2 separate regions of the Homo sapiens genome follow, and region 1 is linked to region 2. Evidence: fine-mapped expression QTL. Tissue or cell type: prefrontal cortex. Region 2 holds a variant in brackets; the other region holds the start of a gene. All regions are shown on one strand. Distances are between the middles of the regions.

What was found. PIP is the estimated chance that this variant, and not a neighbour inherited with it, causes the effect.
Region 1: it holds the start of MYF6, and the variant in region 2 is fine-mapped to the expression of MYF6 in prefrontal cortex (GTEx, PIP above 0.99).

The regions. Positions count from the first base shown.
Region 1 is chr12:80,703,816-80,711,926 of GRCh38, reverse strand. It overlaps MYF6 (myogenic factor 6), which reads right to left and starts at 4,293. Exons shown (of 3, transcript NM_002469.3): 1 at 3,689-4,293; 2 at 3,313-3,403; 3 at 2,453-3,085. The coding sequence starts at 4,207. The coding sequence ends at 2,967. It overlaps LOC105369867 (a long non-coding RNA gene), which reads left to right and starts at 4,689. Exons shown (of 5, transcript XR_007063388.1): 1 at 4,689-4,818. RefSeq lists an enhancer at 3,584-4,493.
Region 2 is chr12:79,744,809-79,752,919 of GRCh38, reverse strand. The region is part of intron 4 of PPP1R12A-AS2 (PPP1R12A antisense RNA 2); the gene reads right to left. Among named protein-coding and RNA genes, the nearest start is that of PAWR, 58 kb to the right of the region's middle. The variant G/A (reference allele first, on the strand shown) is at 4,654.

The DNA.
Region 1 (8,111 bases), 960 kb before region 2:
AAAGACTGAATAAAATCCATCAACAAGTAAAGTCCACGAATTAATAAAAGCATTCTGCTGTTGAGCCATTTATAACACAGATCTTACTATAAGTATAGGCTAAATTATAAATTAAATGAGTTCACCTAATCAGTTACATTATTTTGTGTTGCATAATAAATTTGAATTTTAAAAATAGAAGTGTGCATATATACAATTTGGGGAAAATCCCTATTGATTCTCAGGGAGAAAATGATGGGCATCTAATAAGCATAATTAATGGGCATAGACACTACCCAGACATATTCACACATGTTTTGGTTGGATAATTTGAAATGCTTTACCACTTATTTTTTTAAGTTACTGCTCTAATTTGGAGTTCGGTAGCTAGCCACTCTTGAGAGAGAGCTTTTAGAAAACAAACGCCAAGGAGAGCCAAATTTTTCCCCAGACCATAAAATGTTGCTTATTAATTTCCCAAGGCAAGCTGGGCTCAGTGGTATGGGCCTGTAGTCCCAGCTACCTGAAAGGCTGAGGCTGGAGGATCACTTGAATCCAGGAGTTCAAGCCTGGGCAACAGGGACACATCACCCCTTAAAAAGAAAAAAAAAAGGAGGAAAGAAAGAAATTAACAATGTGCCAAGGCATCTGTTTCACAGAGCATGATGGTTAAGAACACAGGCTTGAATCCACTGATAATTGCCTGGCTCTGAATCCTGGCTCTATGCAGTACTTAACCAAGTGCAGGAAACTCTGTTCCAAGGATCTTCGCAGTACCTCTCTCATCTGTTGTAGGATTATGAGTTAATATTTAAATACTAAGAATGGCTCATTTATGTTGCTTTTGTTCTCATTGTTGTCAATATTTTCCCCAGCCAGAGCAAGGAAAGGCTGAAGAAACTATGGCTTTTGATGGAAGAAAAGGGTCTTTGAATTGACTAATGAAGAAGAGAGCTGGCATCTAGTGTTTATTTTGTGCCATTTTGGCTAAGCACTTCACATGTGTTATCTCAGTGAATCTTCACAACCTCAGGAGGAAACAGGACTAAGAATGAGCAGTGACTAGCCCTAGACAGTGGCAGCCTGGATTCCATCTAGGTAGCCAACCCCACACAGGCTCAGCTAAATCTCCCACCTACCTCTCCCAAACCTTTAAAAGAGATTGTATGTCAATGTCAGCTTCCACTATGAACCTTTCTGCCTTTTAAATTTGTTTCAGAAGAAATCTGAATTTCCCATATACTCAGAAAACGCAGTGACTACTATCGCCAGGAAGAGGCTTTCCTTTCTGAGAGGAAAAAGGGGCAAGATACAGCTCTGTACCTCCAGGGGGCACTGTCTGTGGTGCTATCTGGAACTTAGGTGCGCAACAAGAAAGTACAGCCTTTGGAGGGTTAGGAAGGAAAGGGTGGGCTGGGAAATACTGAATCCGATTTGATTTTCACGTCTGCTAACTGAAGACTAGCTGTTGGGGAGGAGGAGGAAAGGTAGAAGTTCAGGGGTGGGGGAAGGGAGTGAAGGTGCCACTTACAGAATCTAAGAGAGGAGTCGCAATTCAAAAGAAATGGCTTCCTCCTCTCATCTGCCTCACTTCCCACTGTGTTTCTTGGTGGTCGTTTCTTCCTGAGGTTACAGGATAAACAAACCTGGCACACGTTGTAAAATCCGCATGGTGAGGAGCTCCTGGGGCTTCTAGCCTCTTTGGGGCTTTGCTGTTTGGCTCGGCTAAGAGGTTGCATGTGTGTTGTTGTTGTCTTTTGCCCTCAACCATTGAAACCTTCCCTCACTTGAAGCCGCCCTCCCTTCAAAGCAGCCCACCCCACCTCCAGAGACAGATTGCCCATTTCTTTTATCTTTCGTATATGGAAAACAAACCCAAGCCAAACGAGGCCTTGAGGATATTCCAGTCTGCTAGGGACCAGTCTAGTTCAAGAAAACTGGGGAGGGGGCCCGAGATCCGGCCCTGAGGATGCCGGATGCAGCCCCGGGAACTCCAGATCCACACTTCAGGACAAGAGCGGCCTGGGAAGGCTAAGAGGGAAGGCCGTTTGTGGGTAAATCCGCTGAAGATCTTTTTGGGAAATGAGCACAGTTTTGGTGTGGTAATTTCTTGCAACCATATTTTCCTAGATTGAAAATTCCATTGTTAACTTTGGGTAAGTAAATCTCACCCAGATCTCCAGGTATAGGAGTGTAAAACCAGACGGAAAAAGATGCTGATAAAAGGAAAAATGACATTTTTCTTCTGGGCACTATTCACTTCCAATGACAAGTGTGAGGTCTACGAGAGAGAGAACAGTATCCAGTTTAATTCAGACTAAGGAAAGCCAAATTTCCTTTCAATTGGCATGTAAGGAAACACCCAAATAAATGGGCTTGTGTGGTGTCTAAATTAAAATATGGCTCCTCTTTATTTTTGTACACATGCCTCCAAACATATTTTTCCAGTTCCATCAAATTAGGACCAACTTTGTTCATATAGAAACTTCTTTTTAATATTACAATACCAGGATCCTCGCACATTTTATATACATCATTCCACATTTAAAATATATTTCAGGTTTACGTAAAAAAAGAAAGTGTTAAACTATTTACAAAAATACATTAAATACCCCTAACATTAAATGCAACTTTCCCACTTTAGACAGGAATGAACTTCTTTTGAACATGGCACAAAAGGATCACCGTAATAAAAGTTAATATAGTATAAAACCAACCAAACAAAAACAAAATGAGGCTAGACCTAAGCCACTCGCAGTTCCAAAAAAATAAAAGCCCAAAGCCGAAAGGCGTTTTCATTTGAGCATGCACAACAGATTTCGCAATTTTCGCAACGTTTCTTTGTGAATGTGTCTCCTTCCCTTTCAGCAACTTTTCGGTCTGGGTTCCTAAATGTTAATGTAATGTGACCTAATCTAAAGGATTAGGCCAGGAAGGGTCGGTGGGATCTTCCTGCTGCGTGGAGAAGGTCTCAAGCGCAGGCTCAGTTACTTCTCCACCACTTCCTCCACGCAGGGGAGTTTGCGTTCCTCCGAGGAAATACTGTCCACGATGGAAGAAAGGCATCGAAGGCTACTCGAGGCTGACGAATCAATACTTGCTCCTCCTGAGCGAAAAAACAACACACAAACATAGCACCCAAAGAAGGAACACGAAGCAGCTCCGCGCCCCGCGCGAGGCCGCTTTGGCAGCGAGGAAAGGCCTGGTCCCGGCGCGCAAAGAGCGCCCTTTTCGCAGGGCGCGTCCCTGCTCTCGCTTCGAGCCCTCTCGGCCCAAGCATCCTATCCACCTCCCGGATTTTCTCTGGTGCGGCCCAGAGCCCTTTTACTTTACCTTCCTTAGCCGTTATCACGAGCCCCCTGGAATGATCGGAAACACTTGGCCACTGGGAGCTGCAGGTGCGCAGGAAATCCGCACCCTCAAGCTGGAGGGAAAACCAAGGCAGCGGCAGATTAGGAAAGAAACATCGGTTCCGGGGTTGGGGTGGGGTGGGGGGCGGCTTTCCTGCTTCCTCGGGCCGGGTACGCATTTCCTGCCTATTGCAAGCACCCGGTCTTCTTGGGTCACTGGGGGTTCATTAGAGACGGAGCGGGAGGGGCGGGCGAGAAAGGGGGAAGGGAAAAAAGACCAAGCAGCTGGAGGTTAAGGCCCCGCGGAAGGCGTTTAATCAGCCTTCGCATTTCCCTGCCCCGGCAGCATCTAGGCTTACATTTTCTTGTTTGGGTCTGTAGCTGAAGGGGTCCACCCCCAGCTCCTGCATCTTCTCCTGCTGATCCAGCCGGTGCAGCAGGTCCTGCAGCCGCTCAATATAGCTGATGGCGCTCCGCAGAATCTCCACCTTGGGCAGCCTCTGGTTGGGGTTGGCCACAGTTCGCCGCTTCAGTGCCTCGAAGGCCTCGTTGATTTTCTTTAGCCTCCTCCTTTCGCGCAGGGTGGCGGCTTTTCGCCGGTCAGTGGGGGCAGATTTTCTCTTGCAGGTCTTGCAAGCCCAGATCAGACACTGGCCGGGGCAGTGTGGAGGCTGCAGGCCCGGGGGCGCCAGGACATGTTCCTCTCCGCTGCTGTCGCTCCCCGCTTCCGGGGGCATTTGGTCCTGGCAGGGGGACAAGGTACCATCACTCCCTGGATACAAAGGAGAGCCTTCTGCCACTTCTAATGGCTGCAGAGTAACATTTTCCCCATCCAAGTAGAAGAAATAGGAGCCAGTTTCAAAAAGGTCCATCATCATGTTCTCCTCCTTGGCCTCTGACTCGATCTGAACTGGGTGATGGACTCAAAAACCCAGAGGAACCACCCAGATGGCATTTAATTAGTGCAGTGACATAAGTCGACCCAGCTTTATATATAGTAGCTCCTGAAACTCAATCCAACTTTTAGCTGTCATGGAGCATCAGTCTCCCAATGTGATTGCAGCTAGTGCTCTCTAGAACATCTAGTTTGAAAGAAAACTGAGAAGTGTCACCTCCCAGAGTGTTGTGACAATCTATGTGCAGACCAGGTTACACAGAGAGAATCACATAACTTAAACAAAGCATTGAACCCTTCCATTTTGGGCAGTTTAGATACTAACCTGCTTACAGGACAACTTCAAAACAACTGGGGATTAACATTGCCCTATTCCCCTCCCCCTGCGCTCATCTGAATTCTAAGTATAGACCCATGATGAAAGATTTCAAAGGCAATAGCCATTGCTCCAAAATAGCCGGGTTAATATTTGCAGAGTGGTTCAGCTCCTTTCTCTCTCCTGCCTCTCAAAAAGATGCTATTCCTGTGATTAAAACCATTACAGTGCTTCAAAGGTTATACATGACTTTCAGGCTTCAACCTCAATAGAAGCAGGTAAATCTCTTTCCTCTCTTTTACTAAGGCTGCAAGATGATTTGGGAAATGGAGGGGGTTGCTGAAGGGTGCTCACATCCCATGATACTGGATGAAATGATTCTCTGGGTCCTTCCATAGAGACCGTCCTTGACTATCTTTTTTTTTTTTTTTTCCTTTGGGGAGAGGGGCAACCAGGATCTGAATTCTGTACCCTTCCATTTGTGGAGCAGTATTACATATGAGGTAGGGAGTGGGATAGAGGATGGGGTTACAATACATGTAGTAACTCCTCCTTAAAAATAGTTTTAGTGAAAACAAGACTCACACCACAGCTACTTGATATTTCAGCATTTACTTGTGGCCCCCTCCAAGGTGCCTCTCTTATGATTCCAGTTCTGCACACTGTGTGCTCACCACTTTTTCTTTTGCATTCTCACTATCCATTGACTCCAAATAAGTTGTTTGATAGGATTTAAGTGAGAAAGGTTAGCAACCAAGGCACGAGCAAGGAAACAGCATTTTTTAAATTGCAGCTTGCCCATGGTCCACAAGATACATGTATTGTTCTTCGGGAGACAGTACAATATGAAGGTCAAGTGCGGGGGCCCTAGATTCCAAAGAACTATCAAGTCCTAGCAAGGTTAATTTCTATGTATATATCCATGGGTAAGTACTAGATCTTGATGTCTTCAAGATGATAGTGGTTTCCTTACAGTTTTAGTGAGGATTCAATCAAATGATACCATGCATGTGAAACACATAGCACATAGCTGCTTGATGAACAGTAGTTATCATTTGTAGTATAAAGCCATGTTAGGGCAAAGACTCATTCCTATGAATGAAATAAAGCATAGCTGTTGGAGAGGTTTTTCTTTTTCTTCCCTCTCTCTGTTTTGTTGTTCTTTCCCTTCCTTTCACCTTTCCTCCTAGAGCTCTAGAAAGACTTCCTAGCTGTAACTGGCCTTTGGGATGTCAGTTGACCTTGGTTTTGGTCTTTATAGTCAGTGCCTCAAAAACTATGTGGGAACATAAAATCTTATTGCTCTACCCCAAGCAGTAATGATTATAAGCTGTGTTCTTTATGACTTTATTTTAAAAAATGAATAGAGTGAAGATAATGCAGGAAATCAACTGTCAGATAATTTAGAAATTAGCTAATCAAGTCGCCTATTCTAGAAGATGATTCTTCACAGTTTCTATTGAGCCACAGACTGGATGTTAAGCTTTGATATTTTTGGCTGTTTTTATTCCTTATCAAGTTTAATACTATTCTTAGATTTTTGGAATGGTAAGAAGGAGAGAGAAGAGTTGCAAGAGGCCAATACTTCTTCTGTGACTTTTTTTTTTCTATTTTCGCCAGTTTCTTGGTTGCTCAAGTCAGCAATTAAAACTGCAGATTGAAAGTTTCAGCAACTCAGGGTATAATCTAACATCTATTATAGAAAATTAGCTTGTGCTCTTAACCACACTTTATGTTGTCTCTTGTAAATGTGAAGACAATTTGAAAAGTTAACTAAGATTATTGTGATAAAAATCATTAAGAACATTAAGATAAAAATGACTAATTTTTTTTATTCAGCATTTATTGGGTACCTACTAAGTGCCAGATAGTGTCCTAGGTGCTAAGGATAAAGCATTAAAAAAAATCTCTCTTCTCATGGAGTCTGAATCTAAAGAGGTGAGTTAAATTAACAGACCAAATGGGAGAAATAGCCTTGGAATTGGGATGGGGAAGGCCTAGATTATAGTCTTTTGGGGCCTGTGAGGATTTAATGAACTCTACTATCTCAAATTCTCAGATGTTTAATCCGTAACATTGGCATAATGACAAAAGATGTCCATATTTACAGGATGTTATAAAAATTAAACTTTTAAAAACATGAAACCCACCTCAAAAATGTAGCATCCTCTCTAAAAGTACTTTTATTATTGGAATTAGTATGTTCAGAGAAAAATAAGGGAGAAAAATATCACTACTAAGCAATTTTGAAGCCTGGGTGAAGAAATACATTTAAGGTGTTACCATTCTTAGACTTGCCACTGATTTTAAGAGGTATCAGATAGATGTTAGAGAGCCTTCATATCATGAACCCGCTAAAAAATATGGAAGTTCGCCTTTTCCTTTTTCTGTTTCTTTCATTCAAGTGTCACCACTGGAGAAAGAGCCAGTTTAGAAATGTAGAAAGAGAATTATTTTTTTAAAAAAGTATATAAAGCTTTGGGGTGCAGATCAGGAGCAACTTCTTAGGCAAGGGTGGCTTTTACTGGTATAAAGTCAACTTTCACCTATTGAATTCTTCCTTATTAAATTATGAATCCCCTTTTCCAACACGCTCTAGACCTCAGACCAGTAAAATTAGTGGGAGTGTTTACCCTGGTTTAAACAGATTTTTCCCCTTTTTTGTGGTTGTTTTGGGAGTTGAGGGCAGGAGGTGGGAGGAGAAAACAAGGAAATGCCAGCTTGGGAAATAATCACCCTTTATTAGATTAGGTCAATGGGAAAATACGCACTGATGCCAAACTTCTAACTAGTGAACTCTTGGAACTCAAACTGTTTACAAAATATGAGATGCCTGTAATTGCAATTATATCACTTCTCAGTAGAACTTGGAGACACAGACCTTGACAAGTGGTCAAATCAGTTTTACATAAACTGCAATCCTCCAAGCTTTAAATAGTCCAAATATTTTTTTAATTATGGAAAAAGTAAATGATAATAGGGGAATAATAATATTATCATTAATAAAATCACTCCAAGGGGACTAGACTTCATTCATCATAAAATCTGAAACTAGATTAGTGACAGGATGGGAAGTTTTCATGTGGTTTACCACCCTGTTGTTCTTACTTCATGCTTATTCATTTGCAAATGATTTTTTCCCCCCAAAAAAGCCTGAGTGCCTCCCAATTCTTTTCTGTGGGAAGAAGTGGGAAGGAAAGTATTATGGCTAGCTCACATCAGTGGATTTTAGCTATGAGCCTTTGGAAATGTTGCATATATGGTAGAAAGAGAAGAGACCTTTGGGGAAAGACAGAATCTGTGTTCTAGCCATTCTTAAGTATGTGTTTCTAGCCACAGTTTTATTAGAGATCAAAAAGCATATACATTACACATATCATAGGCTTTCTTTTCACACTAAATTAAATAATATATTTTGAGCCCATGGTATGAAATATGCACTCAGCAAATATTAATTCTCCTACTCAATTTGTAAGGCCTCTGATGGAAAGAATCATAGTGAATTCACTGAAAAACCTAGATTTGGTGAGAAAGATGTTTCTGAAAAATTTGGGGATTTGTGTTAATCAAG
Region 2 (8,111 bases):
ATGGTACAGTATGACATATATTAATGACATCTGTTGCCTCATAAACCTAGAGAAGTTATTAATTTTCAATTTATTATAGAACATTTCTTTACCATCATGAGACATGTTATCAGTATGTCAACTTATTGTACTATTTGAGAATGGAACTTTTCAATTTCTTATGCTGCATCTTGTTCTAGCCTTTAACTCACTACAATTTTGAATAATGCATTATTATGTTCTCACCAAATGTGTGACTTTTCCTTTTCTGAGCAATAAGTTCTCTTATTAAATAAATTGCTGAGACTTTTCATAGAATGTGACTTTTTTAAAAAAGTAAAAGTTTCATTATGTTTTGAGGTTGAACTTGCCACATAAAGTAATCAGCATCTCTGGTCGTCAAATGGTAGTAATTTTTAAGTGTCTTTTCATTTTTGGTGGAACTACCGTTACATTTAGAAATTGGTGAATGCCAATGATACACAATGGAATAGGAAAACTTGGATTCCTAGTCCATGTAAAACCTATTGATAAAGAGCATTATTGTAAAGACAGACTTTATGTCCTTTGTTGCACTTGTGTAATGAAATGACTCTGAAGATTATAATTATTCATTACTAACATATTAGAATTTTAAATAAGTGTTGGCCTAAAATACCTCTCATCCTTCTCACACCTCTTCTTCAAAAGTCACCATACTAGATCATCAGGCATTTTTATAAAACATAAACTCTAATAAAATACGTAACAAAAGGGTATGATAACTAAGTGTGTAAATCACAAAAAAATGCCAAAATTTTCACAATGCAATTTACTTCTAGCCTACATAATTTATGTTTTCAACATTTATAACAACAGTGGAGTGGCCAGGGGGCAAGTAAATCTTATCAAATAAAATTCCTTCTTTAGAAGGAAAACTTCCTATTTGCTATTTCACTGACAGAGCTTGTTCACTAACGTAAGTCAGTGTGTGGCATGAAATAGAAGATTAGAGAAGGTAATTCAAAACTAGCAACATCTTGCAGAAACCTAGGTTCCATAGAACTCTATTTAAGAAACTTTGCTCTAGGGATGATAATATGCATCCCTAATATAGTCTGCTACGAGTTAATATGATACCACTTCATGTAAACTTACAGCAGTTTATCCTATTTACCCCCTTTCACCCCTTGTGCTATTGCTATCATACATTTTATATCTACTTATTTATTAATGCCAAAATACTATGTTATGATTTGTGCAATAACAGTTATACTTAAGAAATTAAGAGGAAAAAAAATTGGTGTAGTAGGCAGAATAATGCCCTCCCCGTGCAATAAGAAGTCCAGGTCCTAATCTCTAGAATTTCTCAATATGTTAGGTCCTATGGTAAAGGGAAATTAAGGTAGCAGATAGAATTACACTTGCTAATCAACTGCTGTTAGGATAGGGAGGACATTCTGAATTACCCAGAAGGTCTCAGTGTAATCATAAGGATCCTTAAAATGAAAAGAAGGATGCAGTAGAGGACCAATGCAAATGGTAACGTGAAAAGGGCTTGACTTCAAAGCCATTGGTGGCTTTGAAGATAGAGAAATGGGACTATGAGCAAGAATGCAGGTGGCCTCTAAAAGTTGGAGAAAGCAAGGACATTTGTTTTGCCCTAAAGCCTCCAGAAGTAACACTGCTCTGCTAACCCCTTAATTTTAGCCTAAGACAGACTCATTTCAGAATTCTGACCTCGAGTCATAAGATGAATTTGTCTTGTTTTAAGCCACTAACTTTGTAGTAATTTGTTACAGCAGCAACAAGAAACTAATATAGATGGTCTTTTGTGTTTACCTTTTGCTCCTGTAGATCCAAATTGTCATACCATGTCATTTGCCTTCGACATCTTTTTGTATTCCTTTTTGTATCCCTTTTTGTATTCGGCCTTTTAAACTTGTCATACCATTGTCTTCTGATCTCCATTGTTTTTGATGAGAATTCAGTTATAATTAATTGTTTTCCTATATGTAATTTTTTCCTTTCATTGTTTTAAGACCATCTCTTTATATTTGGTAGTACATATTGCGGTTTTCTTTGTCTTTTGGATGCTAGGCATTCACTGAGATTTTTGGATTTTTAGTTGATATTTTCACCAAATTTGAGAAAATTTCAGTCATTACCTTTTTCAAATTTTCCTTCTTCTCCATTACATTATTTCTCTCCTCTCCATAGATTTCAACTGCATGCACATTAGAATACTTAATATTGTCCAAATGCTCACTAAGGCTTTGTTCGTTTTTTCTTCATCCTGTTCTTTTCTGTTCTTCAGATTAGACATTTTCTGTTGACTTCTCTTCACATTCACTGACCCTTTTGCCACCTTCACTCTGGTGGTAGACCCATGCAGAGATTTTTTTAAATTTCGGATATTACACTTTTCAGTTCTAGAATTTCATTTTAGTTCTTTTTTTAATCTCTCCTGAGATTCCTTCACCTGTTCACTCACTATGGCTACATTTTCCTTTAAGTCCTTGAAAATATTTATAACTGCTTTAAAATTCTTGCTAATGTAGGTCATGTCAGGATTTATTTGTGTTGACTACTCTTTCTCTTGATCTTGAGTCACATTTTCCTGTTTCATTACATGTTTAATTTTTTTATACTAGACATTGTGGATAAAACATTATCTTCCTCTGAAGAATGCTGATTTTCATTCTAGCAGGCAGCCAAGTTTTTGGCTAATGACTTTGAACTTGTGTAAGCTTGGTTTTTATAATTTTAAGATGTATCTATTTCAATTTTATCCTTAGTTTTAGAATAAATCCTTAGTCCTAGGAAAGAGTCTTTACTCAAAGGTGTGGCTCCTCTCAAGTTTCTATTGAAAGCTTGAGGTGTTTACTAAGCCCCTTTTTGACTTTGTAGCCTTCAAACTCCAAAATCTATCTATCTTATGGTGAGCAACAACTGAAATCTCTGCTCAGCATTTTTGTTTGTTTGTTTTTGAGACAGAGTCTCACTCTTTTCGCCCAGGCTAGAGGGCAATGGCGTGATCTCAGCTCAATGCAACCTCTGCCTCCTGGGTTCAAGCGATTCTCTTGCCTCAGCCTCCTGAGTAGGTGGGATTACAGGCATGTGCCACCACACCCATCTAATTTTTTGTATTTGTAGTAGAGACAGGGTTGCACCATGTTGGCCAGGCTGATCTTGAACTTCTGACCTCAGGTGATCCACCCACCTCAGCCTCCCAAAGTGCTGGGATTACAAACGTGAGCCACTGCACCTGGCCTCTGCTGAGCACTTTTAACCTGTTACTTTACAACGGACTTTTTTTGAGACCATGCATGTGCAATTCAGAGATCATCCAAGGATTTGATGGAAAATTAATACACAGGTTTGGAAATCCCGTCTTCACGGCTCTCATTTTCAGAACTTTCCTCCTCAATTGCCAGCTGTTCTGGCAACCCCAAACTCTGTCCTTTCATACTTAAAGCCAATCAGACTTCAGCTTGAGTTCTAACTTCCACAGCATTAATTGGAAAATGCCCTCGGGGATTAATCTGTTTAAACATGGATTTTACTAAGTGGTGTTCCCTTCCTTTCCAGGTGTATTAGTCCATTTTCTGTTGCTATAACAGAATACCTGAGACTAGGCAATTTATAAAGAAAAGAGGTTGATTTAACTCATCATTCTAGAGGCTGGGAAATTCAAGATCAGGCAGCTGCATCTGGCTGTGACCTCATGCTGTGTCATAAAATGGCAGAGGGCATCACATAGCGAGAGGGCAGGAGCGTGCCAGCCCAGGTCTCCCTTCCTCTTCCCCCATCACAGGGGCCCCATCCTGATGACTTTATCTAATCCTAATTAGCTCCCAAAACCCTCACCTTCAAATACTATCAACATATAAATTAGCGGATTAAGTTTACAAAGCATGAAATCTGGGGGACACATTCCAACCACAGTACCAGGGTGGAGTCTTTTTTACTTTGTGATTACTTTTGGTAACTTTCCAGTGTTTTGGTTTTTTAAAAAATTTTGTCCAGGGTCCAAAATTGTTATCTGTGGAAAACAGTCCAATATAAGCTATTGTGCCATTACTGAAAACAAAACCTCTGTATTACTTTATTACTTTTATAATTTAAAAACTAGCTTTACAAAGGGCTAAAACAGATGGACTAAAAATCAATCTTTTATATTAATGATTAGCTTTATAGGTAATTTTTTGTCTTTATATTCCTAATTTTCTGTAATGTAATTGGTTTTGGGTTTTTTTTTTTTTTTTTTTTTTTGGAGACAGGGTCCCTCTCTGTCACCTAGGCTGGAATGGAATGGTGTGATCTCGGCTCACTGCACCTCCACATCCCAGGCTCAAATGATGCTCCTGCCTCAGCCTCCCAAGTAGCTGAGACTACAGGCATGCACGACCATGCCTGGCTAACTTTAGCGTTTTTTGTAGAGATGGGGTTTCACCATGTTGCCCAGGCCGGCCTTGAACTCCTGGACTCAAGCAGTCCACCTACCTCAGCTTCCCAAAGTGTTGAGATTACAAGCGTTAGCCACCACAGCCAGCGATTCTTTTTTCATTAAACTTTTCTCAGTGAATGAAATCTGCGTTGAAAATTAACTTATACACTTTCTACTCTGTGGGCTGCAGTGAAGGCAGCCCAGAGAGTAGAAAGTGTGTAAGTTAAAGTAAAAGGTGTGTTTGT[G/A]TGTGAAGAACATGAGTCATCTTCGGGTTATCTGTTGGGTGAGGGAGGATGGTTTTGCAGGGGTGGAGAAGTTTAAAGAAGCAAGGAAACTGGCCAGGCACAGTGGCTCACACCTGTAATCCCAGCACTTTGGGAGGCCGAGGCAGGTGGATCACAAGGTCAGGAGTTCAAGACCAGCCTGACCAAGATGGTGAAACCTTGTCTCTACTAAAAATAAAAATAAAAAATAGCCGGGTGTGGTGGCAGTAGCCTGTAACCCCAGCTCCTCTGGAGGCTGAGGCAGACAGTTGCTTGAACCCAGGGGGCAGAGTTTGCAGTGAGCCGAGATCACACCACTGCACTCCAGCCTGGGCAACAGAGTGAGACTCCATTTCCCCCCCCCAAAAAAAAAAAAAAGAAATAAAAGAAGAAGCAAGGAAACTCTACCATATACAAAGGCAATTAGCCACAACTCATTGCCAAATGCCTGGGTTATAAACCTACCAGATTACCTTACATAGTAGAAGAATCTGCCATAGATGACCTTTAATGTTTCATTTTAAATTTCCAGCTTAATATTAAATAAAAATGAATATACTATACATATACAACTAATATGTATGCATTAGAGCAAATCAGAAAGGGATATGGAAAAAGGAAAACAACTGATTTGTAGAATGATGACATTTGAGGATGATTTTTAAGGCAGAAGATCTCAAATACTTTTTCCCCCTTGGAAACACATACTGGATGACTATCACATTCCATTGTTTTCTACTAAATGGTGGCCTCTGGCATAGATAAGACAAACTGGAGATTATGGGAGATTCCCCTTCTAACTGCAGTATGTTACTCACCACCCTTCTTTTTCTCTACACACTCAGGGAAGTATATTAGAACTCAGGTAAGTAAGAAAAACATTCTTATCAGAAAACCCTGATTCTGCTCTAACTTATTAAAGTAAATAATTAGAAAACTTTATTCATTCATTTACAGATACTTTTACTGAATGCCTACTATGTGCAATACACTGTTTCTATTTCAACCATTATTGCAAATTACTTATTACACAGTTTCTGACTGGTTTAGGTAAGCCACCCATATAAGACAACAGAGAGACTGAGAGAATCTGTGTTTTAAATAATTTAGATTGTTGTAAAGCTGTTTGTAAAAATAAAAAACTTTAATAGCCTAGTAAACAGGTGTCAGTCAACACTCAATTCTTTAAAAGTCTTAAATTCAGACTAATTTCTCAATTGTGAGGATAAACAGAATGGCAAGTAGGAAAGTAAAGCAAAGCAAAGACCCAAAACTCTTGTCTTGCCTTTGTTCTCCGTATTCATTCATTGTCCAATTCCTTTTTTTCCTATTTTGCAAATGTATTCCATGTGCATCCCTTTCTCTTCGTAAGGGCATATCTTCCTGCCCAGTTTATCCTACATATCTTTATCATCTAACGTGTTTTCTTTATAACCTCCATGAAGGCAGGGATGTGTTTTATTCACTGCTGTATTGGCACAGTGTAGTACCTGGCATATAATGGGTAATCAATAAGTATTTGTTATGGAGTCAGTTATTCACCGACATTTTACTTTCACTCTCTCCTAATCCTCCTCAAGATAAAGTCTAAATTCTTCAGGCTTATTTTCAAGGGCCGCCTTTTGTAACCTTGCTATCAAACTTTATTATTCCCTCCATTCCCATGTTAACACTCTAAGCAGTCCTAGCCCATCCTATTCTCCAAAATACTGATTCGATTCTCCTGATTAGAAGGCTTCTTACCTTTGTTTATCTAGCCGCATTCCAGATACCTTTTCCATATTCTGCCTGCATGTTATCTGCTTCTTGTGGACATGTAGGCACCTTCAGCCCACACTGTCCTCTCTTTTCTCTTCTACAGGACTCACAATCTGTTGCACTCAGTACTATAACCAGTGATCTTTTTCTTACAGGTACTTGCATTCATATTTACTTATTTTTATTTTTTTGAGATGGGGTTTCACTCTGTCACCCAGGCTGGAGTGCAGAGGTGTGTGATCTTGGCTCACTGCAACCTCTGCCTCCTGGGCTCAAGTGATTCCCCTGCCTCACCCTCCTGAGTAGCTGGGACTACAAGTGTACCACCACACCCGGCTAATTTTTATATTTTTTTGTAGAGATGGAGTTTTGTGAGACTGGTCTTGGACTCCTAGACTTAAGCAGTCCTTCTACCTCAGCCTCCCGAAGTGCTGGGATTACAGGCGTGAGCCACTGTGCCTGGCCCATATTTATTTATTTATTATTTGTACAAATTTATGGGGTACATGTGAAATTTTGTCACATGTATGTAATACATAGTGATCAAGTCAGGGTATTTAGGGGTGTTTGTCACCCGAGTTCAATACATTTTTGTTGATTATAGTCACTTTACTCTGCTATCAAACATTAAATTTATTCCTTCTATCTTACCATGTTTGTACCCTTTAACACACGTCCCTTCATCCTCCTCCCCAACCCTTCTCATCCTTCCCAGTCTCTGTTATCTCTCTTTCTACTTTCTACCTCCATCTCATCCAATTTTTTAGCGGCTACATATAAATGAGAACATGCAATATTTGTCTTTTTTTTACCTGGCTTATTTCACTTAAGAAAATGATCTTCAGTTCCATCTGTGTTGCTTGCATTCTTATGTAACTGTTTCACATGTCCATGTCTTATCTCCCCACCTGGATTGTAAGCATCTGGAAGACTGAGAACTTCAGCTTTCCGCCATATACAACTTCTCTGATTTCCTCACACTTCCTTTTGCACATTCTGTTTCCTTGTTCCGAGATACTCTTCATCTTTCCTCTTCTGTTTGGCCAACTCATCTCTCAGGCCTGAGTTTGAACAAACTTTCCTCTAATAAACTTTCATCTACTAGAGTACCTACTCTTTTCCCTTAAGTAATATGCTCATCATTCTTCATTCTAACTCTCCCTGTTGAACTACAAGCTCTGTGACAGTATATCTGTCTTATTCATTGCTATATTCCCAGCACCTAGACTAGCACCTGACAATAAGATGTACCCAACAAATGTTTGTTGACTGAAAGAATATCTACTTATTTCTTTTGTTTCTACTTCATGCATAATAGTATACCATCTACATGCTAAGTACTTAATATAGTCCCATTGAATCAAGCAAAAGATGATAAGGATTCATGAAGTGTTTATTTGTAAGCTGGGAAATGAGTAAACATGTGTGACTGGAAGACAGTGTCCTTCAGAATAATTGGACATTGTATTCAAAGCCCACCAACTAGCCCCTTGCTCTCTCCTTTCCTTTTCCAAATAATTTATTGCGACCTACTATGTACTAGGCACTGGAGATAACAGTGGTAAGCTAAGTGAAATCCCTATGCTTGATGACTTAACATATAGCCTAGTGAAGGAGATAGAATATTGACAAATCAATAAAGGATGCAATATTGGGCAGTGATAAGTGCTATTAAAAAATCA